Linked DNA regions of Homo sapiens: all the other regions are linked to region 1. The links come from fine-mapping of genetic effects on gene expression. A gene starts in region 1. Each other region holds a variant in brackets. All regions are shown on one strand. Distances are from middle to middle. Region 1 holds the start of OAT (ornithine aminotransferase). Region 2 has its middle 41 kb from the start of OAT. Region 3 overlaps OAT (ornithine aminotransferase). Region 4 has its middle 49 kb from the start of OAT. Region 5 has its middle 120 kb from the start of CHST15. Region 6 overlaps LHPP (phospholysine phosphohistidine inorganic pyrophosphate phosphatase). Region 7 has its middle 140 kb from the start of OAT.

The links. PIP is the estimated chance that this variant, and not a neighbour inherited with it, causes the effect.
Region 2: its variant is fine-mapped to the expression of OAT in whole blood (TOPMed, PIP above 0.99).
Region 3: its variant is fine-mapped to the expression of OAT in lung (TOPMed, PIP 0.99). The same link has a PIP of 0.9 or more in whole blood.
Region 4: its variant is fine-mapped to the expression of OAT in blood mononuclear cells (TOPMed, PIP above 0.99).
Region 5: its variant is fine-mapped to the expression of OAT in whole blood (TOPMed, PIP above 0.99).
Region 6: its variant is fine-mapped to the expression of OAT in whole blood (TOPMed, PIP above 0.99).
Region 7: its variant is fine-mapped to the expression of OAT in whole blood (INTERVAL, PIP above 0.99).

Annotation. Positions count from the first base shown.
Region 1 is chr10:124,416,655-124,420,778 of GRCh38, forward strand. OAT (ornithine aminotransferase) reads right to left here and starts at 2,269. Exons shown (of 10, transcript NM_000274.4): 1 at 2,219-2,269. RefSeq lists silencers at 1,829-2,368, 2,311-2,970 and an enhancer at 2,944-3,458.
Region 2 is chr10:124,376,111-124,380,286 of GRCh38, forward strand. No RefSeq gene overlaps it. Among named protein-coding and RNA genes, the nearest start is that of OAT, 41 kb to the right of the region's middle. RefSeq lists an enhancer at 3,206-3,923. The variant T/C (reference allele first, on the strand shown) is at 1,999.
Region 3 is chr10:124,393,770-124,397,945 of GRCh38, forward strand. OAT (ornithine aminotransferase) reads right to left here. Exons shown (of 10, transcript NM_000274.4): 10 at 3,534-4,176. The coding sequence ends at 4,173. Among named protein-coding and RNA genes, the nearest start is that of OAT, 23 kb to the right of the region's middle. The variant G/A (reference allele first, on the strand shown) is at 2,307.
Region 4 is chr10:124,367,782-124,371,906 of GRCh38, forward strand. No RefSeq gene overlaps it. Among named protein-coding and RNA genes, the nearest start is that of OAT, 49 kb to the right of the region's middle. The variant G/A (reference allele first, on the strand shown) is at 1,784.
Region 5 is chr10:124,209,138-124,213,313 of GRCh38, forward strand. No RefSeq gene overlaps it. Among named protein-coding and RNA genes, the nearest start is that of CHST15, 120 kb to the left of the region's middle. The variant G/A (reference allele first, on the strand shown) is at 1,905.
Region 6 is chr10:124,492,222-124,496,397 of GRCh38, forward strand. All of the region lies in intron 3 of LHPP (phospholysine phosphohistidine inorganic pyrophosphate phosphatase), which reads left to right. Among named protein-coding and RNA genes, the nearest start is that of LHPP, 32 kb to the left of the region's middle. RefSeq lists enhancers at 2,979-3,556, 3,557-4,134, 4,135-4,176. The variant C/T (reference allele first, on the strand shown) is at 1,962.
Region 7 is chr10:124,279,248-124,283,423 of GRCh38, forward strand. No RefSeq gene overlaps it. Among named protein-coding and RNA genes, the nearest start is that of OAT, 140 kb to the right of the region's middle. The variant C/T (reference allele first, on the strand shown) is at 2,578.

The DNA of each region.
Region 1 (4,124 bases):
AACATACCTACAGTAGAATTTCCACAAAAGGCTGCATTTTGAAGTTAATTTAGCCTATACTCTTAAAAACTATTTTCTTACTCTAAAAGAATAGTCGGCGTAAAGTTGTCCAAAAGCCACTTAAAATATTCAACTTGAGGAGTAAATTTGTTCTTGCTATTTTGACAAATATTTACTTTTCCTGAGGTAACCATTCACAAATACAGGCCTTTAAAAAAAAAAAAAAAAAAAAGTTCTACCAACAGAAGTCTCTTTGACGTAATCAGTATTCTGGCTAAAATTCAAGCCAAGTGCATCATTGGCAAACAACTAGTTTTACTACTGAGAAAGGACCGGGGTCAACTACAGCACATCCTCCACACACATCCAAATTCGTGCATTCATCACTATTTGTAAATGTTTGAGATTTGAAAGGTCCTCAAGAACTCACTAAAGGGCATAAAATATGCACACAAATAACTGTAATAAAGGCACGCTATGGGGATAATACATATTAAGACAGCTGCTTTGAGGGAAAAATGTCTTTTAAAAATGTTTACTATTTAAAGTTATACTGGATTTTTCTTTGGGGGGGGGATGCAAAACTAATCTTAAACACCATGAAAAACTGTAAACCCAAAACTATAAGCTTTTTTTTTTTTTTTTTTTTTTTTCGAGACGGAGTCTGTCGCCCAGGCTGGAGTGCAGTGGCACGATCTCAACTCACTGCAAGCTCTGCCTCCCGGGTTCAAGCAATTCTCCTGCCTCAGCCTCCCGAGTAGCTGGGATTACAGGCGCGCACCACGATGTCTGGCTAATTTTTGTATTTTTAGTAGAGAAAGGGTTTCACCATGTTGGCCAGGCTAGTCTCAAACTCCTGGCCTCAGGTGATCCGCCTGCCTGGGCCTCCCATAATACTGGGATTACACAGGTGTGAGCCACCGTGCCGGGCTAAAAATAAGCTTTTTAATTTAACGCTCGTTTTTATGAAAAGATTCATCTAAAGACAGAACCAGGATATTCTAATGAAAGGAGTCTATTGTTATTTCACATGGCTAAGAGCGATTGATTACAATCTAAAGAACAGTTCCGGGGTTAACTGAAAGAACTAGCTTATCCACAGAAACCCTTTCAATCCCAGAAGGAGAAATTTAGAATTTGGAAACTGAACATTAGTCATTTCTTAAGGTAAAGCCACTTCATTCCAAAGTCACTGTCTGTTCGCCCTTAATTTATCACCGTAATTTATCTAAGAGGTAAAACTGAACACCGAAAAGGTAAGATGTAGAGTGACAAAAGGAGACGGTGGGTCACAGGGCGAGTGCCCAGGTGACTTCGGGCCTCAGTCCTCTCGCCAGCAAAGGGCGGACAATGACCCCTCCCGTCCCGCCCGGGAAGGCGATCGAGGAAACGCACTGGCCAGGCCCATTTACTGATGCTCAGCAGGGTTTGCAAAAAGCCCCCAACGGGAGGTTTTCATGCTGAAAGTCCTGTTGCCCCCCCATCCCCCACCATCTAATTAACCTGCACGTTACTGTAAGGAAGGTTCTGCTTCCGTAATTTTCTTTATTTCGACAGAGGCTGGAGAAAAAAAATCATAGGCTGGAAGAGGGGAGCGATGGGCAGGCCGATCTGCAGGGCGCAGGAGCAGGCCGGGAGGACCCAGCCCTCCAAGGCTGCATCAGCGCCCCCGCCGCGTGACCAGGGCCACCGGTTTACTGCACAGCTCCCCCGTCCCCAGAACGCAGCCTCCCCGCCAACCCCAGGAACCAAGGGTGCCCAAAGGCCTCCTACCCGGAACCCCGGGGCGCCTCGGGGTCTCTGGGCCGGGTGGGCCGAGTCCTGGCCTCCACAGGCCGCGAGCGCAGGGGGCGGCGGCTCCGCCCGGTCTGGCAGGCGGGGCTGCCACATCCTCAGCCTCTCCCTGCCGCCCGCCCGTCGGCCGCTCTGGGCTGGAACCAGGACTCCGGCCTGCAAGCCGTGGGTCGCCACGCCCCTGCCCCCTGAAGCTGCGCGCCGGCCGGAGACTCCAGGGCGCCCGGGTCCGAGCCGCCCGCAGAGTAAACGGGCCGCTGAAGCGGGGCTCGTTCCCCGGCCGAGGCCCAGCGCGCCCCCTCAGCCAGCATCCCCCGAACCCGGGCCGCGGCCACCCCGCGCCCGCCCGCCTCCCCCGCCGCTGTCAGGGAACCCCGGCCAGGGCCCGAACCAGAGCCCCAGGACAGCGGCGCCCAGACGGTACCTGACAGCGCCTGAGGACAACCGGGTACACGCGGCGTCTATGAAGCGCAACAGTGACGCCGGAGAGTCACTGCAACTTAAAGGCTGATTCTGCCCCGCCCCCAAGACACCCTCGCCGCTCATTGGCTGGGGCGGAGGGCAGGATACCAATCGCGTGGGTCCCGTCCTCCGCCCCGCCCTCCGGCCGCGCATCAAGGATCTTTGCTCCTCCCGCGGATTCGATCCGCGCTCGCGCCTCCTGAGCCCGCCGGCCTGTACCTGAGCTCAGGCCCCTCGGTCGCCTCCTCTGGCGGGACGAGAAGAGTCCTTGTCCGCCCTTGCTGACGAGAAGACTGAGGCCCGAAAAGGAAAAGTCTGTTGGGCCCCCCACTGCGCGGGCCGGGTGTGGCTGGAGGCCGAGAGACGTGAGGCTGGACCGCCCGCCCTGTGCTCCTGGAGGGAGGGACCAGCCCCAGCTCTGCCCCAGCCACAGCTGCGGGAGCCCCATGCCCTTGAACCCTGATGCGCCGCGCGGCTTAGTTGTGCCTCTGAATCCACCTCCAAAAGTCGTCGCTGCCTATGGAAAACACACTGCCCACCTGTTCGCAGCTGCTGTCAGATAATTGAGTGGCAGCAACCCACTCACAGTACAGATTTGCCTGTGGTGCCCTCCACAGCCGGTTATTAAATTCAGAACACAAAATAGATATTCCGGGACAACCTCATGTTAGAATCGGAAGGGACTTGGACTTCACTTAGCCCACAACAAGATGTTAAATATTGGAAAACAGAGACCCAGAGAAGGAAAGCGACTTACCCAGTCATCCAACAGTAGGGGCAGTCTGGTCCTGTGTGCCCCTCGCCACCCCTCTCAGAGGGCAGGCGCTGGCAGCTGCCGGCACCACACTCCATTAGACCACAATGACCAGTCGGGGGCCCAGCTGGAAACAGAGGGCACACTCCAATGTGAACATTTCCTAAAACGTGGTGGTGGGGGCCCGTGGTTCATGCCTGTAATCCCAGCACTTTGGCAGACCGAGGCAGGAGGATTGCTTGATCCCAGGAGTTCCAGACCAGCCTGGGCGACACAGTGAGACCCCGTCTCCACAAAAAAAAATAAAAATTAATCTGGTGTGGTGGCACACCTATGTTCCCAGCTACTCCAAAGGCTGAGGTGGGAGGATCACTTGAGCCCAGGAGGTTGAGGCTGCAGTGACCTATGACTGCACCACTGCACTCCAGCCTGGGCAACAAAGCAAGACCATCTATCTTAATCAACCAATCAATCAATCAATGTAGGCAAGTAAACCACAAGGGATGGAGAAATAACCTGGGTCTCATGCACCAGCGAGGGCCATTATCCATCCTAGGCCCAACGGCCTCCAAGTGGGGTTTCCAGAATTCCAGAACCCAAAGAGAGGAGTGTGGGAAAGGCTATCTGGTCACCAAAGTCATCAGCAACTGCATGGGAAGGAGCTGGACAATGAGCATCTCCTGTCAGGCTTCCACATGGGCTGAAGCCATTAGGAGGCCAGAGGCCAGGGGAGCCCTTTAAGACAGCTCAGCCTCCTGGGACAAACAGCAGGGTGGAAAAGGGTGGAGACGGGGTAGGGGAGCAATTGGAAGACATCCAACATACATAACTGGCTAAGATAAGTCTTAGCTAAGCAGAAAGTAAAGTCCATGCTAAATGGTAGGGATAAGAAAGTGATATGGGTGCAGAGCTGTGAACAGCAGAGCCAGTATCTGCAGATGTGCAGAGCAAGACACCAAAAGGGATTCAGTCCCCCTGGGCTCCATCTGCCCTATACCAAGGTCACTCTCTCAGACTGTTGTGGCCATGGGCTCTCCAGAACTCACTGAGAGCAGAACATTGCCTTTTATTTCTTTCATGTTCCTCCACAGCACCCAATACAATGTGATTAACT
Region 2 (4,176 bases), 41 kb before region 1:
TCTGGACTTTGAGACCAGCCTGGCCAAAAGTGGTAAAACCCCATCTCTACTAAAAATACAAAAATTAGCTGGGTGTAGTGGCTGGTGCCTGTAATCCCAGCTACTCAGGAGGCTGAGGCAGGAGAATCACTTGAACCCAGGAGGCAGAGGTTGCAGTAAGCCGGGATCGCGCCATTGCACTCCAGCCTGGGCTACAAGAGAAACTCCGTCTCAAAAAATAAAAATAAAAAAAATAAAGATGGTGTCTGGGACAGAGACTTCCTGGAGATGGGAAGAGGGGGTCGAGTACCATGACCCAGGTGGGTGAACCTCAGCAAATGAGGGAACAGAGTCCTTTCTCCACAGACACTCACACCGGCAGCACATCCGTCCGCTCCCTAGGTCTGACACTGCTGTAAGACCACCTTGCCTTCCGGTGCCCTTAGAGCCCCTCCACTCGGGTTCTGTGTGGCCAAGTTAGTTCCTCCCAGCACCCCGGGCTTCCCCCGCTTCTCCCAAAGGTGATGTTAATAAAGACATCACATCACATCTTTTCCTCCTTCCAGATGACAGTACACAAGCCGGACGGAAGGTAGAGGATGGGGTAAGGAGCTGGGGGAAATGCTGTCATTTCCCCACAGTCATTCCTGCAGGTTTTTGGACAGGAGAAAGGCTTGTTATTATAGAGCCATCAGAGCCATCAGCCTCCTTCTGCAGGTGGGCGGAAGTCAAGTCCGTTTGAGGCCTCCATCCCCTTGGCCCATTCACCATTCAAATCCTCCCGAGAGTGCCCGCCAGTGGCAGACAAAGCCCGATGGAGTCTCAAGAACTAGGATCCTCTCCTGCCCTGACCCCTACCCCATTATCCCAGGCGAGATTACAGATTTGTGAACTTCAGTATAAAGAAATTTTTTGAAAATTCCACTTCAAAGAGCCAGTGGGTCTTCAGCCCCCACCTCTGGGCACAACCTCCAAGGGGTGGCAGTTGGTGTCTCTCCCAGCCCCTGAGTCCCTGTAGGGGTTGTTCACAGAGGTTGTGCCTGAGTTTTCTCTCATGCACGAAAGACCCTACAGAAGCCTTGGAAGACTGTGGCTCTGCCCCTTTCTTTGAGATCTTCTGGGGTCTCCAAGGGACAAGAGTGCATGGGGTTCCCTGCCAGTAGCTCCCCTTCCTCTCGGGTGCCAGGCTTTGTCTCGGAGGTAGCCCGGCTGTTGGCACCAAGTAGGCCCCCCACACTGTGCCATCTTTTGGAGTGAAGACCGCATGGGGGTAGCACTCCAGTCCTCGAGACCACCTTCCTCGTGCCCTTTTCTCAACTCTTCTCTCCCCCTTCTTCCAGCACAGCACCCACCTTGTTCCCCCTTAAATCAGCTGAGTGTTTATGGGCACCGGCTGCAGGTCCAGCACCTGCTCTGGGGATTGATGGTTTAGAAAATGAATAAAGGGAGGTGGGGAAAGAAGATGGCAGTGGGAGCACCCAGCCCTGTCCTGCTTCTTTGCAGAAGTGGTCGGAGAGTCCCCTAGAGTCAGGAAGAATGCCGTTGGTGGACCATGAGCTCCCCCAGGGCTGGGACTGTGCCTCGTCACCTTTGTGTGGCCAGCGCTGACTTGGCTCCCAGGCTTCCATTTGCACACATGTGAAATGGGCCTCATAATGCTTCCTTCTCAAGGCTGTTGTGAGACTTAGATACAATGCTGCATGGCAAACGTCCAGCACAGAGTGCTTGTGGCAGTGCCCTCTCAGCGCGGGAGGACAATGTTGGGCAAACTTGCTGGGCCACACGTACACAGCGGTGCTAATGGCAGTGCCTGCCTTGGGATCCCGGGAGGATGAAGTGGAATGCTGATGATGGCGAGGACCATTCTGGAACCTAGCACTTCAGCACCCAGTGAATGTGATTCAGAGATGGTGTGGGGAGCCAGGTGCACACTTGTAATTCCACCTACTCAGGAGGCTGAGGCAGGAGGATCACTTGAGGCCAGGAGTTCGAGACCAGCCTGGGCAACATAGCAAGATC[T/C]CTGTCTCAAAAAGGAAGAAAGGAAAGAGAGAAAGAGAGGGAGGGAGGGAGGGAGGGAGGAAGGAAGGGAGGGAGGGAGGGAGGGGATGCAGAGGGCAGGGGAAGGGAAGAATAACTGGGCACTGGGCTTGTCCTCTTGAAGACTGCCAACTCCTGCCCGCCCAACACAGCCTAGCCCCAGAATGTTTATTGCAAACCTGGTGGCGTGGAAACGCAGATGCCATTTGGGGAAAGAATCAGCCTTCACGGGAGGGAGAATGCAGTGAGGAGGGATGGAGGAGGCCTGAGTCCAAGAAGGAAGAAGGTTATGTAGACGAGGTCAGATGGAAAAGGGTCAGGACAGATGCAAAGAAGATGCTGGGTGTGGCCAGTGGTGCTGACGCCCCTCTTGGCCCACCCAGGCTCACCAGGGGCAGGTGGACAGTACACCTGCCCACCCACGCAGCATGAGGGCCTGTCTGCTCGACATCTGCAGAGCCAAGGGTGGCCAAGAATGTTACCCTTCAAGTAACCATGGAAGGTAAGTTAACTTCAGTCCTCCCAGACTCCATGGTGCCCACAGTGCCCAATTTTGGAAGGATAGTTATGCAAGGATATGGACAGAAGGCCCGGAAAGAAAGCTGCAAGCCATCTTCAGGAGCTCTATCTGCCAGACGGGATTATGGATGATTCTACCCTCCTTCTGTGTATTTTTCTATTATTAAGAGGTTTTCAAGGAACATGTATTACTTTTATATCAATTTTCCTTCAGCCCCTAGTTCACTCCAAGCAGATCTACTTGATGGGCAAAGCCACAGCCGAGGGAGTCTGAGCTGGGCAAGGCCCGCCCATTGGCACCCGGAGGTATTCCGTAGGCAACCAACGAGGCTGCTTCTCTTGGCCTTTCTGACACCGAGGGCGTACCTGAGGCTTGAAACTTCCAAGAGGTTTAGTCATCAATCTCTAGCCTCCCGCTGGCTGTTCCCGATTGTCAGCAGAGATCTCAGCGTGGGGAGCTGGCAGGCAGGCATCCCTCATTCAGGAGGCATTTGCCAAGAACGGTGAGGGGGGAGTGTCTCGCCCCCTTTAAGTATCAAAAATCCCAGGCGCTGTGTGTACAATCCCCTCCCTGGCCTTTCCAAGGGTGGCAGGAGTCCTAGTCCAGTGAAAAGACTGTTGAAGAGGGAGGAGATTCCCTGCTGCTGAGAAGGCCTTGCAGGGAGCAACAGGCTTGCCCCAGGGGCCGCTGGTGCCAGCCAGGACGGCCCATAGTGGATCCAGCTTCTCCCCCAGTCCATTCAGTTCCACAGCACAGGCCGTGGAGGGCCTGCCCAGCCCCCTCACTGCAGGAGTGCAGATGAGTGGCAGGTGGCCATCCAGTGCCTCCTGGCCCTCGGCTTGGGGACCAAAGGGGTTTCCCATAGCTCAGTGCACGTGCCCCACTCTAAGAGCCAGATTCACAGCAGGTATCCAGGAAGGTTTATAATTGGGTACCTTCCAACTGATATTCTTCATCTATTTGTTCAAACGTATTTGTCGATTGCAGGAAGGAACCAGTGCTGCCTCCACTGTGTGGAGGGTAAAGGCTTGATGACATGGGGCTTTCCAGCCCGGCAACTGCCATTGAGGCACTTTGAGAGGCTGTTGATTTCTCTCCACTTCCCAGAGCCTTGCACGGTGATGGGGGCGGGGTCTTTTTACATTTTGCCAATTCGGCTTATTTTCTGTGGTGCTGTTGTGTCCTCAAAGGTTGAGGTCCCGGGGAATTTTGCCTGGCTGGCTCCCTTCAATCTACTCTGCCCACTCTGCAGCCAAGCAGAAGCAGCCATGTCCCACCACCAACCCCTGGGCCTGACTCCCTTTCCCTTGAGGGTCACACTCCTCCCAGGCTGCAAGGCCTGATTTAATGGCACCTCCTCCCTGCTCCTCCCGACTCCCCTGCTCCTCCCCTGACTCCCCAGCTCTTCCCCACCTCCTCTGTGCTCTTCTCCTGACTCCCCATCTTCTCCGTGAGCCTCCCCTGACTCCCCAGCTCTTCCCCATCTCCTCCATGCTCCTCCCCTGACTCCCTGTGTCCTCTGTGCTCCTCCCGACTTCCCAGATCCTCCCCATCTCCTCGGTGCTCCTCTCCTGACTCCTCAGCTCCTCCGTGCTCCTCCCCTAACTCTCCAGCTCTTCCACGTTCCTCCTCTGACTCCT
Region 3 (4,176 bases), 23 kb before region 1:
TCTTCCTTATCTAGATGTCACCCTTATCTGAAAGAATCCTTCTCCCGAAGCTTCCTCTCTCCCAAACTCCTCCAACTGTATGTGTTGGGGGTGGGGAGGGGGAGCTAGCAACTTATTTATTGATCTGTAATTCTGTGCCAGGTCCTCCACCAGGAGCTTGACCTACTCCATCTTTTTTAATCCTCCTAACTCCCCTGAAAGGTAGATAGCATCCCACTTCCTCACAGCTAAGGAAAGGGAGTATCTAACCACAGCAGTTGCCCTGATGTTCTACCCCAAATCCAAAGCCTGTGTCTGACTCTCCCTGCCTCCCGCTTCACCACCCCTCCACTTCATCCCCAGGGCACTAAGTGCCGTCAGCAGGTTCCTGCCCACCTGTTCACCACTGGACATAGGCCCTGAGGCCCTACAACCAGTGTGTACTGCATGAGTAAGCCCTAAACCATCAGCCAGAAAGGATTTTCTTTTGTTTGTTCCTTTTTGAGACAGAGTTTCGCTCTGTTGCCCAGGCTGGAGCGCAATGGTGCAATCTCTGATCACTGCAACCTCTGCCTTCTAGGTTCAAGTGATTCTCCTGCCTCAGCCTCCCGAGTAGCTGGGATTACAGGAATGCACCACCACGCCTGGCTAATTTTTTGTATTTTTAGTGGAGATGGGGTTTCTCCACGTTGGTCAGGCTGGTCTCAAACTCCCGACCTCAGGTGATTCGCCCACCTCAGCCTCCCAAAGTGCTGGGATTACAGGCATGAGCCACCGCACCCAGCCTAGGATTTTCTAATAGGATCACGCCACGCCCCTGCTTCAACCCCTTTCTTCAGTGACCCCACTGCTCACCAAATTAAGCCCAAAGGCCCTCATTGTCATTGGCCACCGTCTCCACAACTCCCTGTACTTTCCTACCTCTGGGTCCTCTCTGACTTTTAAAGCCTTCAAAGAATTTAGCAGGAAGATAGCTTTGTTAAAAATCACCTGCCCTAAGGTCATCTCTGGTGAGAATAACTGAATGCAAATTAAACTGACTCATCATAATAATAGTATGTCCTAAGGCAACCTGCAAATGTGGAATCTCCAGTACACACACACAGAGAGAGACTGAATTAGAATCTGCATCTTAAGGCTGGGCACTGTGGTTCACACCTATAATCCCAGCACTTTGGGAGTCCAAGGCAGGTGGACCACTTGAGCTAAGGAGTTCAAGACCACCCTGGGAAACATGGCAAAACCCTGTCTCTACCAAAAATACAAACCAATTAGCCAAATCTGGTGGCACACGGCCATGGTCCTAGCTAGTAGAGAGGTTGAAGTGGGAGAATCGCTTGAGCCTGGGAGGTGGAAGTTGCAGTGAACCGAGATCATACCACTTCACTCCAACCTAGGTGACAGTGAGACTATGTCTCCAAAACAAAAATCTGCATCTTAATAAGATTCCTAAGACAGGTTCTCAACCTTGAATGCCCTGGAGAGCTTACCTGGCCTGGGTGCCACCCCAGTTGTAATTGGTATGAGGAGGCCTCCCAGTAACTGCTCACTCATTTAAACGTAGTCATTCAGTGACAGAGCACTACCCTGACAGAGTACCAAAGACTCAACTCTCATACTGCTAAGAGGTAACTTTTTAGAACCTGGGGGAGGCAGGGAGCAATGTGACACAATTAACTTGAGTTTTTTTTCTTTGAAAAGCAAGTCACTTCTAGGGATTTACTCCATAGAAACACTGTGCACTTTTGCACCATTGTGAAAAGATATGAAGTGGTCACAAGTTTTATTCAAGTCAAATGGTCCCAATATGAGATGAAATTACAGTATACCCATATATGATGAAATACTAATTATTTGAGAATAAGACGGAAAAACATCCAAAATACTCTGTTCAGGTAAAAAAAAAAAAAAAGAAAGAAAGAAAAAAGAAAAAGTTGCAGAACACCACATATAAAAAGGATAACTTTAAAAAAATGATAAATATTAGTATATGCACAGAGAACGCGCTACTTTGAAAGGGAAGTATGAGACCTATCTTTTAGATGTATTCTTTTTATAACTTCTAGTTTTCTGTAGATCAGAGTTGAAATGCTGTTAGAAAACACATGGAATATGCCGGGCACAGTGGCTCATACCTGTAATCCCAGCACTTTAGGAGGCCGAGGTGGGTGGATCACCTGAGGTCAGGAGTTCGAGACCAGCCTGACCAACATGGTGAAACCCCATCTGTACTAAAAATACAAAAATTAGCTGGGCATGGTGGTGTAGGCCTATTGTCCCAGCTACTTGGGAGGCTGAGGCACAAGAATCATTTGAACCTGGGAGGC[G/A]GAGGTTGCAGTGAGCTGAGATCACGCCATTGCATTCCAGCCTAGGCAACAGAGCAAGACTCTGTCTCAAAAAAAAAAAAGGAATACAAAAAAAAGAAAACACATGGAATAAATAAATCTCAAAAAGCTTAAAAATGTAACTGATAGGCTGGGCGCAGTGGCTCACGCCTGTAATCCCAGCACTTTGGGAGGCCGAGGCAGGTGGATCACAAAGTCAGGAGATCAAGACCATCCTGGCTAACACAGTGAAACCCCATCTCTACTAAAAATACAAAAAATTAGCCGGGCGTGGTGGCGGGCATCTATAGTCCTAGCTACTGGGGAGGCTGAGGCAGGAGAATGGCGTGAACACAGGACACGGAGCTTGCAGTGAGCCGAGATTGCGCCACTGCACTCCAGCCTGGGCAACAGAGCAAGACTCCATCTCAAAAAAAAAAAAAAATGTAACTGATAACACTGCAGTAATAGCATAGTGACATGGGGAATAAAGAAATCTTGTAACTGAAGAACGTGAGCCCCTTTAAATTATCAGGCCCAGGCCAGGCACAGGGGCTGATGCCTGTAATCCCAGCACTTTAGGAGGCCAAGTTGGGGGGATCGCCTGAGGCCAGAAGTTCAAGACCAGCCTGGTCAACTTAATGAAACCCTATCTTTACTAAAAATACTAAAATTAGCTGGGTGTGGTGGTGCACACCTGTAATCCCAGCTATTCGGGAGGCCGAGACAGGAGAATCATGTGAGCCCAGGAGGTGGAGGTTGCAGTGAGCTGAGATCGTGCCACTGCACTGCAGCCTGGGCGACAGAGAGAGACTCCATCTCAAAAAATAAAAACTAAATTATCAGGCCCAGAGAGGCAATAGAATGAAATCATAGTCAGGTCACTCTCTCCCAAGCTACATAATTACCTCTTGAAGCCAAGTATCTATCAAATGCCATATACCCTGTAGTTCAACAGCATATAGCCAATCACTAACCAAGGTTAGTTCTGTAAGCCAATGAGAATTCCTGATAAACAACTTTTGTAATCACCCCTTCACCTTGTGTCAGTAGAGGGTATAAGAGCAGCTGATCTATCCTTTTTTCTTTAAGAAGTGTTCTCTGGAGCACTCTCCAGGGCAACCTGGAAGTGTGTCCCGAGCTGCAGTCCCCAACCTTGGCCCACCTAAACATTCTATATTAATTTTGCCTCAGCTTCTTCCTTTTAAGGTGAATAATCATCACAAAACAGACATTTGAAATATAAGCTTTATTTTAAATTTAAAGAAGTATTGAAAATAAACATTTTTTACAAATTATAATCAAGCACTCAAAACAATTTAGGAATGTTAAACACTAATTCTTAATTCAAAATAATGACATCCATAGAATACAACCCTGGTGTTGGCCAATATGAAGTTTACTTAATATTAGTATTTTATATACACTTAACCATTAATCCTTCCTAAAATTCAATAACAATGATTTCACTTTATAAGATGAAGCCTTTTATGCAATACCCAGAGATAACTTTTTCAAATATGAAACACTTATACCAGTGAGGAAATTATAAAAACATATATCAATTATACTGAAGGACTTGATTTAGAGGCTGTCTGTATATAGATGCATTTCACCTTAGGAAGTACACATGCACATCAAAACACTTCAACTGAATATAGATGCCATTACATTATTTAGTTACGTTACAAAGCAAACGGCAGGTTCATAAACGTTGTTCTATTATGTATCAACTGAAAAAAATATATTCAAAAAAAAAGTTTTTGAAGACTCATGGGAGTGGAATGTGCCCACATTAGGAATAAAGCTTTTACAGGACCACCTGTCTCCAGCTGGCTCCCAGGGACCACTGAAAACAGCTGGCTACCCTCAG
Region 4 (4,125 bases), 49 kb before region 1:
TGAGGGCATCAGAAGTCCAGTCCCACCTGCCAGGCCCTCCATGGCCTGCCCTGTGTCATGGTCAAAGCCCCTCCTTACTGGGAATTAGGGCTTTATTTGAGCTGGGAATGAGGCCAAGGAAGATGGTGAAACAGGGAGAAAAGCAGCACCCAGTGGGAGAATGTCGCTTCCGAGGACAGGAATCAAGGGACACGAGGCTGACGGAGGAAATCTGCACAGGAAGGGGTGGAAGGTACTGAACAGTGTAAACCAGAAGCCCCCGCCCAGCCCTGGAAGCCCGAGACAGCACTGCTTGACTCCAGGGCCAAGCCCAGCAGGCCGGGCCAGGGGAGGTCTCCCCGAGGACCACAGCCTGGGGCAGAGACACGGGAGCCCTAATTAGGGGCTTGCAAAGGGCTTAGCCTCGGGACTACACAAAGCCCCGGAGCTGGGCCGCGGGAGCCCCAGCCTGTGTCGGGACAGACTTAACGGCCTGGGCTGGAGTCGCCAGCAACATAAAGTATTCTTGTTCCCAGCGATTTTAACAAGGCATTTATGGACCCGAGACAACCTCAGGACAGCACTTGGTTGAAGGAGCTGGCTGCCCAGACAATCAGGGCACAGAGTCAGGTCAGCACAAGGGCCCAGTGATCAAGGCCAGAAAGGCAGGAGAACTGAGGGGCCATTCACCCCATGGTGCAGGGATGGCCCCTCCCCAACCCTGTTAAAACGCAGCCAGTTGGGCTTAACCCTGGGGGGCCTTCACCTTCATAGAGGTGGGGAGGGGGCGGAGACACACTGGAACCAGATTCCCAGGCCTGGGACACCCACCACCAACACCAACATCAATTTCAAACATAGCCACAGTAGACACTAAAGCACTGGGGGCCAGGTCCCTGAGTCACTGCCCCCAGTAGCACCAAGCACCCTGGGAATATCTTGGGCTCCCCAAGACTGCCCCGCTGTTCCCATCAGCCTGTGCACTTCATCACAGAGCAATTAATCTGTTGTCCTGGTTTTTGCTCATCAAAGTGGCCATAACCAGGGTCCAGTGTAGCGAGATGAGCCCTCCTGTTGATGCAGTTCCAACCCAGTTATGTTGCCCAGGGTGGTCTCAAACTCCTGGGCTCAAGCAGTCCTCCTGCTTTGGCCTCCCAAAGTGCTGGGATTACAGGCATGAGCCTGCCCTATTGTTATTAATAACAGTGACAGCTACTACATATCCAACATTTATTAAGTGGTTTAGAGAATTATGTTTTTCCCTCACAAATAACCTATGAGAGAAGAATGTTGATATCTATAGAAAGCTGAGACACAGGGAGGTTAAGAAACTTACTGACGGTGCAACCTTAGGCAGATAGTGGCACCAGGTCTAAAACATGGGCCTCATTGGCAGCCAGTGACCACATGCCTGGTCACTGGGCAGGAGCCTGTCGACAGGGTGGGTTTGTGTGAGCTGGCAGAAACAGCTTTGGACTTGGAATAGGGACACCCTGGTTCCACTGAGCTCTGACACTCACTTTACAACCTCTGGACATCTCCATGAAATGGGGACGCAGACCCTTTCCCTCCACTTCCCAGGGCAGTGAGGGGGATTGGAGAGGCTGAGCCAGGGGAAGGGCTTTGCTGGCAGTGGTATCCAAATAATGGCCCCCAAAAATGCCCAGTCCTAATGCCTGGAACTGAGCCTATGTGACCGATATAGTTCGGCTGTGTCCTCACCCAAATCTCATCTTGAATTGTAGCTCCCATAATTCCCACATGTCCTGGGAAGGACCTGGTGGGAGGTAACTGCATCATGGAG[G/A]TGGGTCTTTCCCATGCTGTTCTCGTGATAGTGAATAAGTCTCATGAGATCTGATGGTTTTATAAAGGGGAGTTCCCCTGCACAAGCTCTCTTGTCGGCTGTCATGTAAGATGTGTCCTTTGCGCCTCATTTGCCTTCTGCCATGATCATGAGGCCTCCCCAACCACGTGGAGCTGTGAATCCATTAAGCCTCTTTCCTTTATAAATTACCCAGTTTCAGGTATGTCTTTATTAGCAGCATGAGACCAGACTAATACAGTGTCCTTATATGGTAAAAGGGACTTCACAGGTGTGATTACATTAAGGATCTTGACATGGAAGATTATCCTGGATTATTATTCAGGGGCCCAATGTGATCACAGGGGTCCTTATAAGAGAGAAGAGTTGGGGCTCAGAGGCAGAGAAGGAGATACGACCACAGGAGCAGAGGCCAGAGAGATGCTCTTTGAGGACACAGGAAGAGGCCAGGGGCCAAGGCCAGGGCAGCCTCTGGAAGCTGGAAAAGGCAGGAAACAGACTGTCTCCTCGAGCCTCTAGAAGGAACCAGCCCTCTGATACCTTGATGTTAGTCCGGTGAGACAGATTTGGACTTCTGACCTCCAGAGCTATAAGATAATTAATCTGTGTTGTGTTACATCACCAACTTTGTGGTAATTTGCCATGGAAGCCACAATGAACTCATAGAGTGGCTCAAACACCCATTCATTTGGGAGCAATTCCATCCACAACTGTGAACTCTGCGGATTTCACAGAAGTGTCTGCTTTGGTCCGGGCAAAATGATTACAAATTCTACTCTTGCAGAACAGAAAAGAGGCTTCAGATAATTCTGTTCTACTTCCTGCAGAGGGTTTAAAGAGTAGGAGCTGAAAACTATATAACTACTGTAAACGACACCAGACTCTTCCTGCTGCCCCCAAATCAAACATATTTTCTTCTCGGAGAGTGATTTTAAGGTGTTTTCTGACAAAACCAGCCCTATTCAGGTGGAGGCCGCTGCCCACCACCAAATCACCCCATGTGCCCATGGACTCTGCCACTGGCCAGGGCCAGGCTGAAATCACAGCTCAGGGAAAGGAGCCACACTGGCCAGGCAGGGCAGCCAAGGGCTCCAGGCTTTGACAGGATCGAGGGTTCGAGGCTGCGGGGCAGGGAGCATCCCAAGAGCTGTGAATATAACAAGTCATCTGTGCACACAGGATGCTGCCCTCTTATATTAATAAACCTGACGGAAATTGTATAGGCTGTGGAAGGAATCAGAGGCAAGCAGACGCTTCCTCATCAAACTGCGCACACAACAGAAAACGGAGTCCACGTGGATGTTCCCAAACCAGGGGAGACTGTCAGTGCTTGACCATAGGGTTTGTCCTTCTCCACCAGGGTCCAAGCACAGGTGGACTTGGTAAGCAGAGCCTCGACAGACCTGCCCGCATACTGACACCCCTGCCAGGGAAGCCCCTCAGTGCAGCGGGGGGCAAAGCGAAAACGGGAAGTATCAAGATGAGGATTCCAGTCCCTGCTGTGAGCCAAGGCCGTTTCTGGGCCTCAGTTTCCCCAGCCACAGCCAGAATCAGCTGGGGTACGTGACCCAACCTGAAGGTCTGGGCTTCCCTACCCAGGTCCCCAGGCTCAGGACTAGCTCCACCTCTCTCTGCTCACCTCCTCACAGATGTGGCCCCAGCCCAAGCCAGAGCTTCCCCAGCTCTCCCCACTCCCTGCTTCCTCTACCCCAGATTCTGAAAATGGAAGCTCCTTTCTGCTTGAGGCTCTCCAGCTCCTCCTTGCTCCTCCATCTCCTGGAAGTCCCCCCAAACTTGAACTTGTTTCTTCACCAATGGCCAAAGGAAACTTGATTCCTAACTCTCCTCATCCCTGGGCTTTGCTCCCTCTTCTTTGTTTTCTTTGGAATCTTTGCCCTCTGTCTTAGTTCGGGTTCCCCCGAAGACAACCAGAGCTAAGAACTTGGATGCAGGTAGTTTATTTGGGAGGCAGCCCAGGAAGCACAGGGAAGATGGAAAAGCAGAGAGGGTGATGGGGGTTGAATCATGTCCCACAGAAAGATGTGTCAAGTCCTGACCCCGGTACTTGTGAATGTGACCTATTTGGAGATAGGGTCTTTGCAGTAATTAAGGGTTAATGTCTGATATGGTTTGGCTGTGTCCCCACCCAAATCTCGACTTGAATTGTAGCTCCCATAATCCCCACGTGTCGTGGGAGGGACCCAGTGGGAGGTAATTGAATCGTGGGGGGCGGGTTTTTCCTGTGCTCTTCTCTTGATAGTGAATAAGTCTCAAGATCTGACGGTTTTGTGAAGGGCAGTTCCCCTGCACTTCTCTCTTGCCTG
Region 5 (4,176 bases), 210 kb before region 1:
TAGCTGCTATCAAAATTCTGAAGGAAAAAGATGACAGGCTCAGGCCAGCCATCTAGCTACTCAGGACAAGGTGCAAAAGTTAGGTGTCCTCCAGAACAGCATTAGAGCTATCCTTACCCTGCACAGCCAGGGGCAGACTGTGTTGAAAATCAGGCTAAGAATCTGATGGTGGAGGAGCAGAGTTACAGAGGCTGGATTCATGGCCCCAGCAAGCTTCCTATGCTGAAGCCAAGGCCATGATAAGGAAGAAGTGGGTCCTAGAAACCTAGAGTTGGGGCACGTGGGAGGGAGGAACTTAATCCTGCATATGCTCCTGAGCTTTTGGGGCCAGCAGAGGTAGTGCCCTCCTCTTTGCCCCCTTCTCCAGGGAGACCACGCAGAGCCTCATTTGACTCAGGTGCCTTGTGCAATGATGCTTGCCCTTATCAGTAGTTGCCCCCTCCCCTCACGGCTTCTAGACTGATAGTGAAGCCCAAGGCTCAGGGGTTCAACTGGGAAGCACCGACCTGCTCTGGGAGGAGAGGGCTATCTCACTGTGGTGGTGTAGGACCTGGCAGAATGAACCAACATGAACAAGGAGGACATGTCTAGGAGCATATAATGAAGGCATTGGGCCAGGAGGGGGTAAGCGTAATGCTGGATAAAGGAGAGTTTATCAATGTGGAGCACCGTCCCATGACTTGGGATCTAACATCATGGTACGGACACTCAGAGATGGTCTTAATAACCCACTGGGACTGCTGCTTGAGGCTTAGGAAAAACTGGGGAGGAGATGTGGGAACTGGCTTGGTGGAGAGTCTAGGAATGGGTTACAAGGCTCCCAGAGGGGAGCCCACTAGACTAGATTAATTATGTAAGATGAAAGAACCAGCCTTAACTAAAGCGATAATGAGAGGAGTGCTTCGTTCCTGAGAGGTTCAGTAGTGGTGGCCCACCATAGGCCAGGGTGGATGGTAGGGGTGCTGTGATGGAACCAGGTTCTCCAGCATCTGTGGAAATGCTTGGATTCTGGAATCACAGGGGCCAGCTGGCAGCACTTAACCATCAGAAGTAGGAGATGATGTATTAACAGCAGGCAGCAAGGATGGAATGGCAAACAGGGGGCTTTGACCCACAGAGACCTGTGGGGAGGGCTAATAGACCACTGCACTCCTGAGGACAGGCCAGATGGGCAGCCGATGAGGGTACTGCTCAAATTCTAAAACCAAAAAGACCAAGAGCAGGTGTGCAGAAGCCTGCTGTCAGCCACTGCAATGGAGACTTGTGGTCTCTCACCTGCTCTGTAGACCTAAACCAGAGCCCATTGATTGTAGGAGAGGCCAGATGTCTGTGGCAGGTGATGTCAATGCTCCAACCATATCCCCTCACCCATACCCCTGTGGTGTACACTGGCCAACTTCCAAGGCCTTTCATTCCTCCAGGGCTTCCTCTGCTCACCAGAATCTGCTTTATTATTGTCTACTCCACATGCCTGGAGTACCACAGAATTATCAAGTGCAGGAGGGGTGGGAAATAAACCCCACAAAGAGTCAGGGGCCTGGCACATCAGTGAAGCTGCCAGTTCAAGAACTACCTGTTGTGCCTTGAAAAAAAAAAAAAAAAAAAAAAAAAAAGATAGAGGCACAATACTTGACAGGCCTTCCTAGAATCTGGAGACATCCCACATCTGGGAATAGTGTTCTAGCACATTTACTGGGTGGGGCAAATGGCTGCCAGTTTGAGTGGGTCCCAGAGTAAGAGAGGAGTCTACAGCAGGTTTAGGCTGTGGATTAAGTGGCTCTGCTATGTGGGCCAGTGATCTGGCACATTCCATGGTGCTGGAAGTACCCATGGTAGATGAGGAAGCAGGATGGAGCCTTTGGAAAGCCTCCTTTTTTAAGTTTCTGTTTGTTTTAAAAGAACTA[G/A]GACCAGCCACCACCTTGAAGAATCAGTGACAGATAAAACAAACCTAACATGAGGCCCAAGAGGATCTGAGCAGTGCAAGGGGTGGACTGTAGCAGATGCTTTTGGTGTCCCCAAAGAAATAGAACTAATTAGAGATATAAACATCTATACATTGACAGAGAGAGAGAGATTGTAGCAAAACCACCATGATGATAATGTTTGACTCCTGCAGACCAAGGTGTTCCACAGCAAGGCCTTTAAACAATGCCCATAGCATAGATAGCCGCTCATAAAGATACCGTCTAACCTCCCCAGTGGACAAGAGTTTTGCAAGAAAGTCTGAGGCATGACCAGCTGCACATGTTTTACCCTAAAAGCTTGCTATAGGAGGGATATTTTCTGGAGGGTGGGTGCAGGAATCCACTGTCTCTCAGCCATCTGAGACATCACTTCTGTTCATAAGGCCCTATTAAATGTTTCTTTCTGAGAAATTGGATTTGTCAGCCTCTTTCTTCAGCCTCTCAGCTCCCTTGGCCTTTGGGGATAGGTTTGCATAGACCTGCTCACCATGGCACAGAGATTTATTTTAAGGAATTGGCCCATATGCTTGTGGGGGTTGGCAAGTACAAAATTTATAGGATAGGCCAGCAGGCTGGAATCTTGGGCAGGTGTACTGATGGTGCGAACTTCCAAATGCATTGGAAGTATGGAGTCTGAAACCTGCAGGGCAGGCCAACAGACTGCAAGGTCAGGCAGGAGTTAATGCTTCAATCTTGTGGCCAAATTTCTTCTTCAGGTAACCTCAGGTTTTGCTCTTAAGGCCCTCTGCTGATTGGATGAGATCCACCCACATTATCAAGTATAATTTCCTTTACTTAAAGCCAACTGATTGTATGTGTTAACTACATCTACCAAATACCTTCGCAGAAACGCCTAGATTAGTGTTTAATAACCTGGTGCCGTTCCCTGGTGAAGCTGACACATGAAACTAACCATAATGGACCCTGCCCTCCACCCTCCATGTCTGTGGCATTCACGTCTACCTCTACATGTCAACAGTTGCTAACCTCAGACACTTGGGATGTTCTGCCTGCATTAGTCAGCTCCAGCTGCCAGAACAAAATACCGCAGACTGGGTGGCTAAGATGATAAATATTTATTTCTCACCATTCTAGAGGCTAGGGAGTCCAACGTCATGGTACCAGCCAATTTGGTTCCCGGCAAGGGCCCATTTCCCGGTTCACAAATGACACCTTTCTGTGTCCTCACATGCTAGAGAGAGAGCAAGAGGGCTCTCCCATCTCTTTTTGTGAGGTCACTAATCCCGGGACAAGGGTTCCACCCTCATGACCTAATCACCCCAAAGTCCCCACCCCCTAATACCATCACCCTGGGATCAGGCCTTCAACATATGAATGTGGGGGGTATGCAAACACGCAGTTTATAATCCTTCCTTCCTCTGCCTTTCTTTCTTTTTTTTTTTTTTTTTTTTTTTTTTTTTTTTTTGAGATAGTCTCTCTCTGTCGCCCAGGCTGGAGTGCAGTGGTGCTATCTTGGCTCACTGCAACCTCTGCCTCCCGGGCTCAAGCAATTCTCCTGCCTCAGCCTCCCAAGTAGCTGGGAATACAGGCGCCCACCATCGCGCCTGGCTAATTTTTGTACTTTTAGTAGAGACAGGGTTTCGCCATGTTGACCAAGCTGGTCTTGAACTCCTGACCTCAGGTGATCCACCAGCCTCTGAAAGTGCTGGGATTACAGGTATGAACCATCGTGCCCGGCCCTTCCTCTGCCTTTCTCTTCTACTCAGTTCTTCAACGGATCAGCTGACACCCACTCGCACTGGAGAGGGCAGTCAACTTCACTGAGGCCACTGATTCCAGTGCTGAGCTCAGCCTGAAACACCCACAACAGACACACCCAGAAATAATGCTTAGCCAAATACCGGGGCAGTCTGTGACCCGGCCACATTAACACATAAACTTAACCATCCCAGGCCAGGCACCGTGGCTCACGCCTGTAATCCCAGGACTTTGGGAGGCCAAGGCAGGAGGATCACATGAAGCCAGGAGTTCAAGACCAGCCTGGCCGACATGGTGAAACTCCATCTCTACTAAAAATACAAAAACTAGGTGGGTCTGGTGGCACATGCCTGTAATTCCAGCTACTCAGGAGACTGAGGCAGGAGAATCATTTGAACCTGGGAGACAAAGCTTGCAGTGAGCTGAGATCCCACCACTGCACTCCAGCCTGGGTGACAGAGTGAGACTCTGTCTCAAAAAAAAAAAATTTTTA
Region 6 (4,176 bases), 76 kb after region 1:
TGTCTCTATCAAAAATGGACAAGTGAAAGATGTTTCAAGAAATGAAAAGATTTTTTTAGTGACAAAAAATTTCTAGTATGTTTCTCATATAAATAAAATGTGTCCTGTATGTAGTCAGGGTTCCTCAGAGAAGCCCGAAGCTACAGGATATAGATATGTAGAGAGATTGTGGAGGCTTGGCGAGTCCAAAATCTGCAGGGCAGGGCTGGCAGGCTAGGGACTCAGGAATGCGCGCAGCAGAGTCGTAAGGCTGTGTGCTGGTGGGATTCTTGCTCGGGGAAGGTCAGTCTTTGTTCTTGTAAAGCCTGCAACTGGTTGGATGTGGTCCACCCACATTGCGGAAGGGAATGTACTCTCCTCCTAGTTCACCGATTTAAATGTTAATCTCATCCAAAAACACCTTCACAGAAACATCCAGAATAATGTTTGACCACATATCTGGGCACCGTGGCCCAGCCAAGTTGACATATTAAATTAACCCTTGTAGTCCCTTTTTAAACTTACACCCATTGCAATTTAGGTCGCTGCTATGGAGCAAGCCACAGAACCTGGCCTCTTAACTCATTTACCCGGGCTGACCCATTAGGCCTTTGAGTCACCAACACCTCACTAGAGAACAAGCATAATGAAGAAGCTCTGCTGTAATTCGTTAATGTTAACACTTTTTTCTTTAAAGATGTCTCATGCTGAGCTTCGTGGCACACGCCTATAATCCCAGCACTTTGGGAGGCTGAGATGAGAGGATGGCTTGAGCTCAGAGGTTCGAGACCAGCCTGGGCAGCATAGTAAGATTCCGTCTCTACAAAAAAGAAAAGAAAAAAAGTTGTCTCATAATTATTAAAAACCACTATTCCAGATCATGGATAATAATAGTCAGAACAGGTATATTGTTGAAAAAGAAAAAAAAAAACCGGAAGCAGTCGCTTTCAGCTTTGTAATACCGCAGCAAATGTCATAGTAGACAAGGGTTTTTTTAAAGTAGGAGATTAGTGGCGTCTCTGCTGATGGGGGTTCTGGGTGTTTAAAAACCAGAGAAAGGAACCGGCGGTTTTAGGGACTAGGTCCCAGCTTCTCAGGACAGCCTGAGGACCCCCCGAGAGCTGCCATCACCATGCCGTCCTCGGCTGTGGGTCACTGCTGGTGAGGTCCATCCTGCACTGCGGGACACAGGGGCACAGGCTGAGCGGTGCCCACCAAGGAGGCAGGAGCAGCGGGTGGAGGCGCCGGGGCAGACTGTCCCTCTCCTGGAAATGGAGTGATTTACATTTGGCATCTGTTTGGACCCCAGAGTGGGAATTGGCTTTGTAATTTCTTCTGTCATGCCGCTCTCAGAAAATTAAGCTGTTTACCCGACAGACTATGGAAGGTTAACGGCTCTTCTGGGAAAGGTCAAGTGGTCATTTGCAGGGAGGCTGTGCTGAATAATCTGAAACGGCAGAAGAATAAAGCATAAAATCGCATCTGACTCCTCCTCCCGGGCTTCCCCCTTTCTTTCCAGCATCCACGGGTTCCTCTTTGTGGCTAGAACATTCACGTCCTAAGTGGGGCTGCCGTTGGCTGGGTTAAACCAGTAACCAGTAACAGGAGAAATACGTCGCATCTCTAGTGTGTGGAGATTACCGGGCCTTTATATTAAAAAAAAATTTTAAGTGCTTATATTTGCTCTGTCTCTAAAAAATGTTTCCAGGTAACAGTTGGCCTCAAGATGCCTTTTTGTTTTTCTGAATGAATAAGGAATAAAGAAAAATTCTGGGCACTATAAAATCAAGCCCAGATTCAGTTTTTTAAAAAATAAACGTTAAAGTTTCTCATTTTGATTTCTGGAAGTTCGTGTTCTCCTTGGACTCTAAAGATTAGCATGCAAAGACAAGGTTTTGATTGTGTATTTTCAGTTGCACGTTCAGTTTTTTTAAAATCCCATCCAGGACTAAATTTAAACATAAGAAAATCCAGGTTTCTTT[C/T]GCTTTCGAAGAGGCTGCAGGGAACTTGAGGCCAGAGGAAGTGGCGCCGCGTGGGTCCCCTTAGGAGGTTTTGCCAGATGATGGGAGGTGCTTGCTCCCGTCCACCCAACCTCTAGCTCCTCCAGCCGGCCCCAGGGTAGCTGAGGGACAGGGGTCTGGGCCCAGAAGCCCCCAGAATCCTCAGCTCCAAACAGAGCTGTACCTGTCGCAATGGAGTAGTTTTGTTGATTTCAGGTTTTCTTTTGTTGCTGGGTAAGCATTTCCTGTGTGGGGTATATTCTTTCCTCCGTCCTGGCTTACTTCCACACATCACTTCATTAGGGAGGCCCTCCCTACCCACCTCGATGCCCTCCTTCTCCTGGCACAGGTGGGCAGGAGGGGACGAGGGTCATGGCCTTTGAGGGCCTGCAGAGGGCCTTGCCTGTGGTGGCGTGGCCACCCTGGTCCTCAGCAGGGTGCTCAGTGGATTCCAAGGTGCTCCCTGGACCCGGACCTCCCCTTCACTTCCTTTTAGCTCAGGTCTCAGCTTTCCATGCCTCTGCTGCCTCCCTGAACCCAGCCTGTCCCCCGCCCTGTTCAAGCAGACTGCCCCTCCCCTGGGTCCTGCCCTTTAAAGTTTGTCTGTGGGCTTCTTTGCTTCCCCACCAGACTGTGAGTCCCTGTGGAGCAGGCTGGGGCTGGGAGTATCCCTGAGTCCTGCAAAGGGCTGTGGAGCATCTGGGATCGTTAATGCCAAGGGGGACCAAGGTAACCTGGGCCATTTGCAGCACCAGCCAGTGCAGGCCCCAGGACCCGGTGTCCCCTCACTGTTTCCTGAGAACTCTGGACCCCACTAAGGAAACCATCAGACCAAAGTAGCTGATTGTCCAACTGGGAAAAAGAAAAAGCAGTACTTTTTTAGGCCATGTAAATGCAAAATATACATTTGAAGTCTGCGTTTAAGACATGAACTTAGAGATTTCTAAGCCTGTTTTTGGGGGTCACTCTAAAAGGGAGGGCATTTTCAGGTCCCCCCTCTGTGAGCATTCACAGCATCCCAGCCAGCCTGTATCCCTGTGCCGTGACCCCAGAGCACAGAGCCTCAGAGGCTGTGGAACAGGCCTGGGGTTCACGTGGAGAGTCCCAAGCCCACGTCATGACAGGAGATGCCCACACCTTCAACAAACAGACTCCAAGCTCCAAAGCTGCCTAACAGGAGTGGCAGGGGGACCAGCCCTGGCAAGGCCCAGGTTTGGCTGAAGCCCGTACCTGCAGCCCAGCTTGTAAGTTTAGCCGGGAAGCATCTGAGGCAGGCAGTGGAGGACGCACAGGGGTGAGCGGTTCATCTCACAGGTGTGGCTGGGTGCCTGCTACAGCTTCAAGGCATCAGGTGGGGCAGAAAGGGACAGGCAGGGTGCCCAGGAGTGGCGGAGCTGGAGGAAGGGCACAGCCCCAGGGCAGCTCCCGAGGAGCTCAGTTCTCACACCCCAGGTGGTCACAGAACACATTTCAGCCCCCAAATTGAACAGGGCTGTGTTCATTTTTTCCTTCCCCCAGCTCATCTTATTGCTTGTGTCAGCCTGGGTGAAAGGTTATTTATAATAATATTCTCCTGTCTCATCTGGGCAGCTTCTGCATGGAAGGTACCGAGTTAATAACTTTGCATGCGTTATTTTGTTCAAGCTTCACAGCAATCCGTGAGGTAGGTATTGTTTGTTGTTCGTTTTGCCCATTTTACAGATTAGGAAACTGAGGCCCACAGGCGTAAGCAACCCAAAGTCACACCGTTAGAAGGCAGTGAGATCTGAATGCTCAAGTCAGCATGCGCTCTTCTTCCCTCTCGTTTTCTGCATACGTGCTTTCTCCACGTCTCCCATATCGTAAGGGCATGGCAGGAGGAGAGGGAAACTGATGTGATGGTGGATGGCAAAACATTTTAGTGGTTCCAAGAATCAAGCCCCCTTGTGTATTCTTGGCTTTCAATGAACTGCGTCTTCAGAGCAGCGCAGGTTAAACCACTTTCTCGCCTCATTGTAGTCAATTGGCTTAGTTCAGCCAGAGCCAGGTCTGGCCCACCATGTGTCTGGACTGTGAGTGCCTTGAGGCTCAGTGTGACGCGATCGTAGGGTGAGCCTGGCCGGGCTGCAGCCAGCCACCAAGCCAGCCCTGGGCTCAAAGAGCAGTGAGGCCATTTTGAGAGAGGAATGCTCCCTCGTGCAGAGCCTGTCTCCACCTC
Region 7 (4,176 bases), 140 kb before region 1:
CATTTCAGAGTGTCTCTAAGTAGTGGGACTATGCATGATTTTCATTTCCTTGTTTAGACTTACTTGTGTTTTCATAATTTTCTACAATAAGTATGTATTACTTTTACAATCAGAAAAGAGACTCTTTTGGGAAGATTTACTTTCCCTGAATGGTGATGGTATTAAGCTTCCTCCCCATACCTAAGTGGCAGAATAGGGTGAAAGATGGAGCATAAGCCAGGGCCCTATGTGCACAGGGCAGCTAAACAGTGCCCCTGGAGACTGAAGGAGAGAAGATCAGGCCTCAGGCCACTGATGGTCCCTATTATGCCCACGAAAAGACACAGCCCTGTCTGTGGAGACACCATGAGCACACAGCTCGGCAAACAGACATGGCCTGTGTTAACCTAGAATATGGTGCCCCATCTCTGGACAGACACAGCCCCAATTCAGGATGCACTGCCAGCCAGCACAGCAGGAGCCAGACTTCAGCCCCACTCACCTCCTCAGCCAGGGGCCTTTGTTCTTGCCTCACCAGTCCTTACCTACCTCGAGAGACCCCCAGCTAGATGGGCTTCAGACCCTGAGTGTGAGCCAACTGGGCAAAACTTGAGTTCCAGGCATGAGGAGCTCACACATCATCTCCCCGTGGCTCTTGGGTCCCCACTCCTGCCCCGTGGGCAGCCATTAGAAATGGCCTCATTCATAGAAAAGGACACACCCATTAAGTGGCTGACCTCAAGCCAAAAAGCAAGGAAGCAAAGGGCCAGAGCTTGCAGACCAGTCTCTGAGTCGTGCTCCAGGGTGCTCTGCACTCTGAGCTGGACTCATGCCTGTATCTGACCTCGGATGACAATCCTCACTTGCGTGTCCTGCCCCTCGCCACCCAAGCACGTGCCTGGCTCTGTCTGCAGGGCTTCACTGACTCTGCGTCAGACCCACACTTCTTGCTTCCTCCTGTTTCTTGCTTCCTCCATGCAGAGGACAAGTTGCAATTGGGTGGGCTGCTCAGCCATTCACTGTCTGACATGTCCCGAGTGTTTATGTGCACCTCTGTGCCAGGTGCAATGTGAGCTTTTCACACTTGTCATTTCAGGTTCATCCTCAGCAGGCATTATTAGCCCTAATTTGTCAAGGAGAAAGCTGAGCCTCAGGAAAGGCAATGAATTTTCTGAGGCCACACAGCCAGGAAGGGCAGGGCTGGGCTGGGAATTGAATCTCGTCTGACTAGTGCACGATACCTCATCATGTTTGTTCCACAGGAAGAAAACGAAAATTAGAAACAAGGCTGTGTTAGAAAACTCACGTATTGGGCAGGCGCAGCGGCTCACGCTTGTAATCCCAGCACTTTGGGAGGCTGAGGTGGGCGGATCACCAGGTCAGGAGATCGAGACCATCCTGGCTAATACGGTGAAACCCCATCTCTACTAAAAATACAAAAAATTAGCCAGGCGTGGTGGCGGGTACCTGTAGTCCCAGCTACTCAGGAGGCTGAGGCAGGAGAATGGCGTGAACCCAGGAGGCGGAGCTTGCAGTGAGCCGAGATCACGCCACTGCACTCCAGCCTGGGCAACAGTGCGAGACACTGTCTCAAAAAAAGAAAGAAAACCCACGTGTTTTATTGCACTTGTGAATGACATGTAATAATTCAAAAGCAAACTCAAGTGGATGGAAAATTCCAGCTGGCTTGTGTTTCCAGGGACTGGGAGAACTGAGGAGACTAACCTGAGCACCAGGACATGGGGACCTGAGACTGTCCTGCCACCGCCAGCAAGGAGTTGCTGGCAAAGAACCCTCTGTGGCTCCAGGCTGGGCGACCTGGACTCTTAGGTTACGGAGATAGGAAAGGTCACCCCAACAGAGGATATGGCTTTTGGAACACACAGCAGCCTTGGTACGGCCGGGCCACTCCCCTGGCCACTCCAGCCTTGCCCCATCCACAGGAAGAGCTGCCAAACCTCCTGGGATGCAGACCCAGCAGCTGAGGTGCCCATGGCCTGGCTGAGGCAGAGAGGCAGTGTCCCTCCCTGAAGGCACTGGCAGGGGCTCTGAGAGAAAGGGGGTCCCTGTCATTTCATTGTTTGAGTGAATGAAAAATGTCTGGTGACCTAGCATGGCAAGAGGAGGTCAGGTACCCTTCGTACAGCCTTAGAGATGATCTCCCAAATGGCACCGCCATCTTGGCCTCCCAGTATGCAGTGGGCTGGGAAATGGCCATGGGCGCAGCCTGGGTGCCCTGAGGGAGGACAGGGAAGTGAGGAGGAAGGGAGGAGAGGTGAATTGTAAAGTACAGACCATGTCAGGTGTTTCTGTCCACGTTATCCCATTGACCTTCCCGCAACCCTGGGCAGTGGGCATTCCTGTTCTCCCTGTTTTCTAGAAGAGGAAACTGTGACCCTGAGACAGGACGAGGCCTTCCCAAGACCACACAGCCAGTGGGAACTGGGCCTAAATACAGGGCCCTGAGGGGAGGGGATGCTCCTTTCCCAGCAAGCCCACGCTCCATTCTGAAGAAAGATTTCCAAATTCCCTCAGGGAGGATCTTCAGATATGCTGAGCCTGCCCTTGAAAGACACTGTTCAGGCTTTACTCAGCCAT[C/T]CCAGTGCCCCCACGGACCCTGCTTCTCGGCTATTTCCTGGTGCGGGGCCCATGCCGGGTCAGTGACCCCAGAACAATCCACAGCAGCCACCCACCCCTCCAGAGGACTCGGCTTACGGGTGTCAGGTGCAGGCAAAGGCATGGGCAACGGCTTCCAGCCAGGAGTCACTGTACTAAGTTGTTCTTGCGTTGCTATAAAGAAATATCCGAGACTGGGTAATTTAGAAGAAAAGAGATGTCATTGGCTCATGGTTCTGCAGGCTGTACAGGAAGCATAGCAGCATCTGCTTCTGGAGAGGCCTCAGGGAGCTTCTAATCATGGCGCAAGGCAAAGGAGGAGGAGGCACTTCACATAGCAAGAACGGGAGCAAGAGAGAGAGAGTGGGGGGGGACGTGCCACACACCTTTAAATGCCCACATCGCAGGTGAACTCAGAGCGAGAACCCACTCATCATCAAGGGGATGGCCCAAGCCATTCATGAGGGATCCACTCCCAGATTCAAACACCTCCCACCAGGCCCCACCTCCAACACTGGGGATCACATTTCAACAGAAGACTTGGAGGGAACCAGCATCCAAACTATATCAATCACTAGGTCCATCTTCCAGCTAGAGAGAGGAGGCCGGGGTTCGCCACAGCAGTGCCGTGCCGCCCCAGGGAGGCCCAAGCCCTCGCAGGATCCCCCGCGCCACAGGCCCTCAGTGGCCAGTGCTATCACACGCCCTGCACAGCCATTCCCTCAGGCCCCCTGTGTTCTCCCACGCCTCTAGGTTTTGAAAGGCAACTGCAAGTTCATTTTTTAGAAGCCCGTGGACTGCTGTATCTCTGAGGATTTGATAAGAGGAGCTAAAGCCACATGACCCTTATTTGGTGAACTCTGACTCGCTAAAGGAATGCAATGCCCTTCCATGGGTCACACTTCCACGGCCTCTCTTAGCGAGCTCTGAGGGGTGCTACAGTGACGTTCAGAGCTCGGTACCTGGCCCCTGAAGTCATAGCAAAGCCCAGTTCTCTGCTGTCCAGGAAAGCACTGGCTCCCTAACGGAGCTCACCTGGAAGCAGGTACTGGGCTGTCTGCATGCAGTATTGCTGGACATCCTGCAATGACCCTATGAGGTAGGTACTAATGATTATTTCCATTATATAGATAAGGAAACTGAGTCATAGAGAGGGGCCAAGTACTTGCCCAAGGAACTCAGCAAGCCAGGATTGTGCCCCCAGCAGTCAGAGCCTGTGAACTTAACACCTGGGCTCTGGTACTTCCTGGTGCCCTTAGAGATGAGCCAAGGAGGCTCAGAAAGAGATTGGCTGCCCGACTTCTCCCAACTAGCCAGTGACCACGCTGGACCTGGGACCTGCGTTCCCTTCTAGATGAAGATCTGGGGAGTACAAAGGAAGAATGAGGGGTACAAGGTCATCAGCAACACAGACCTGGCAAAGAACCTAGTGTCCCATTTGTGAAGCCTCATAACAGCCCCATCAGAGGAAGCTGAAAACTCAAAAGGCACCAGGTAAACTCTAAGCCAGTACACCTTGGCTCATGTGTAAGGGGGCAATTTGCAGAGGCAAGGTCCTATCACCAATGGGCTAACCTGCAG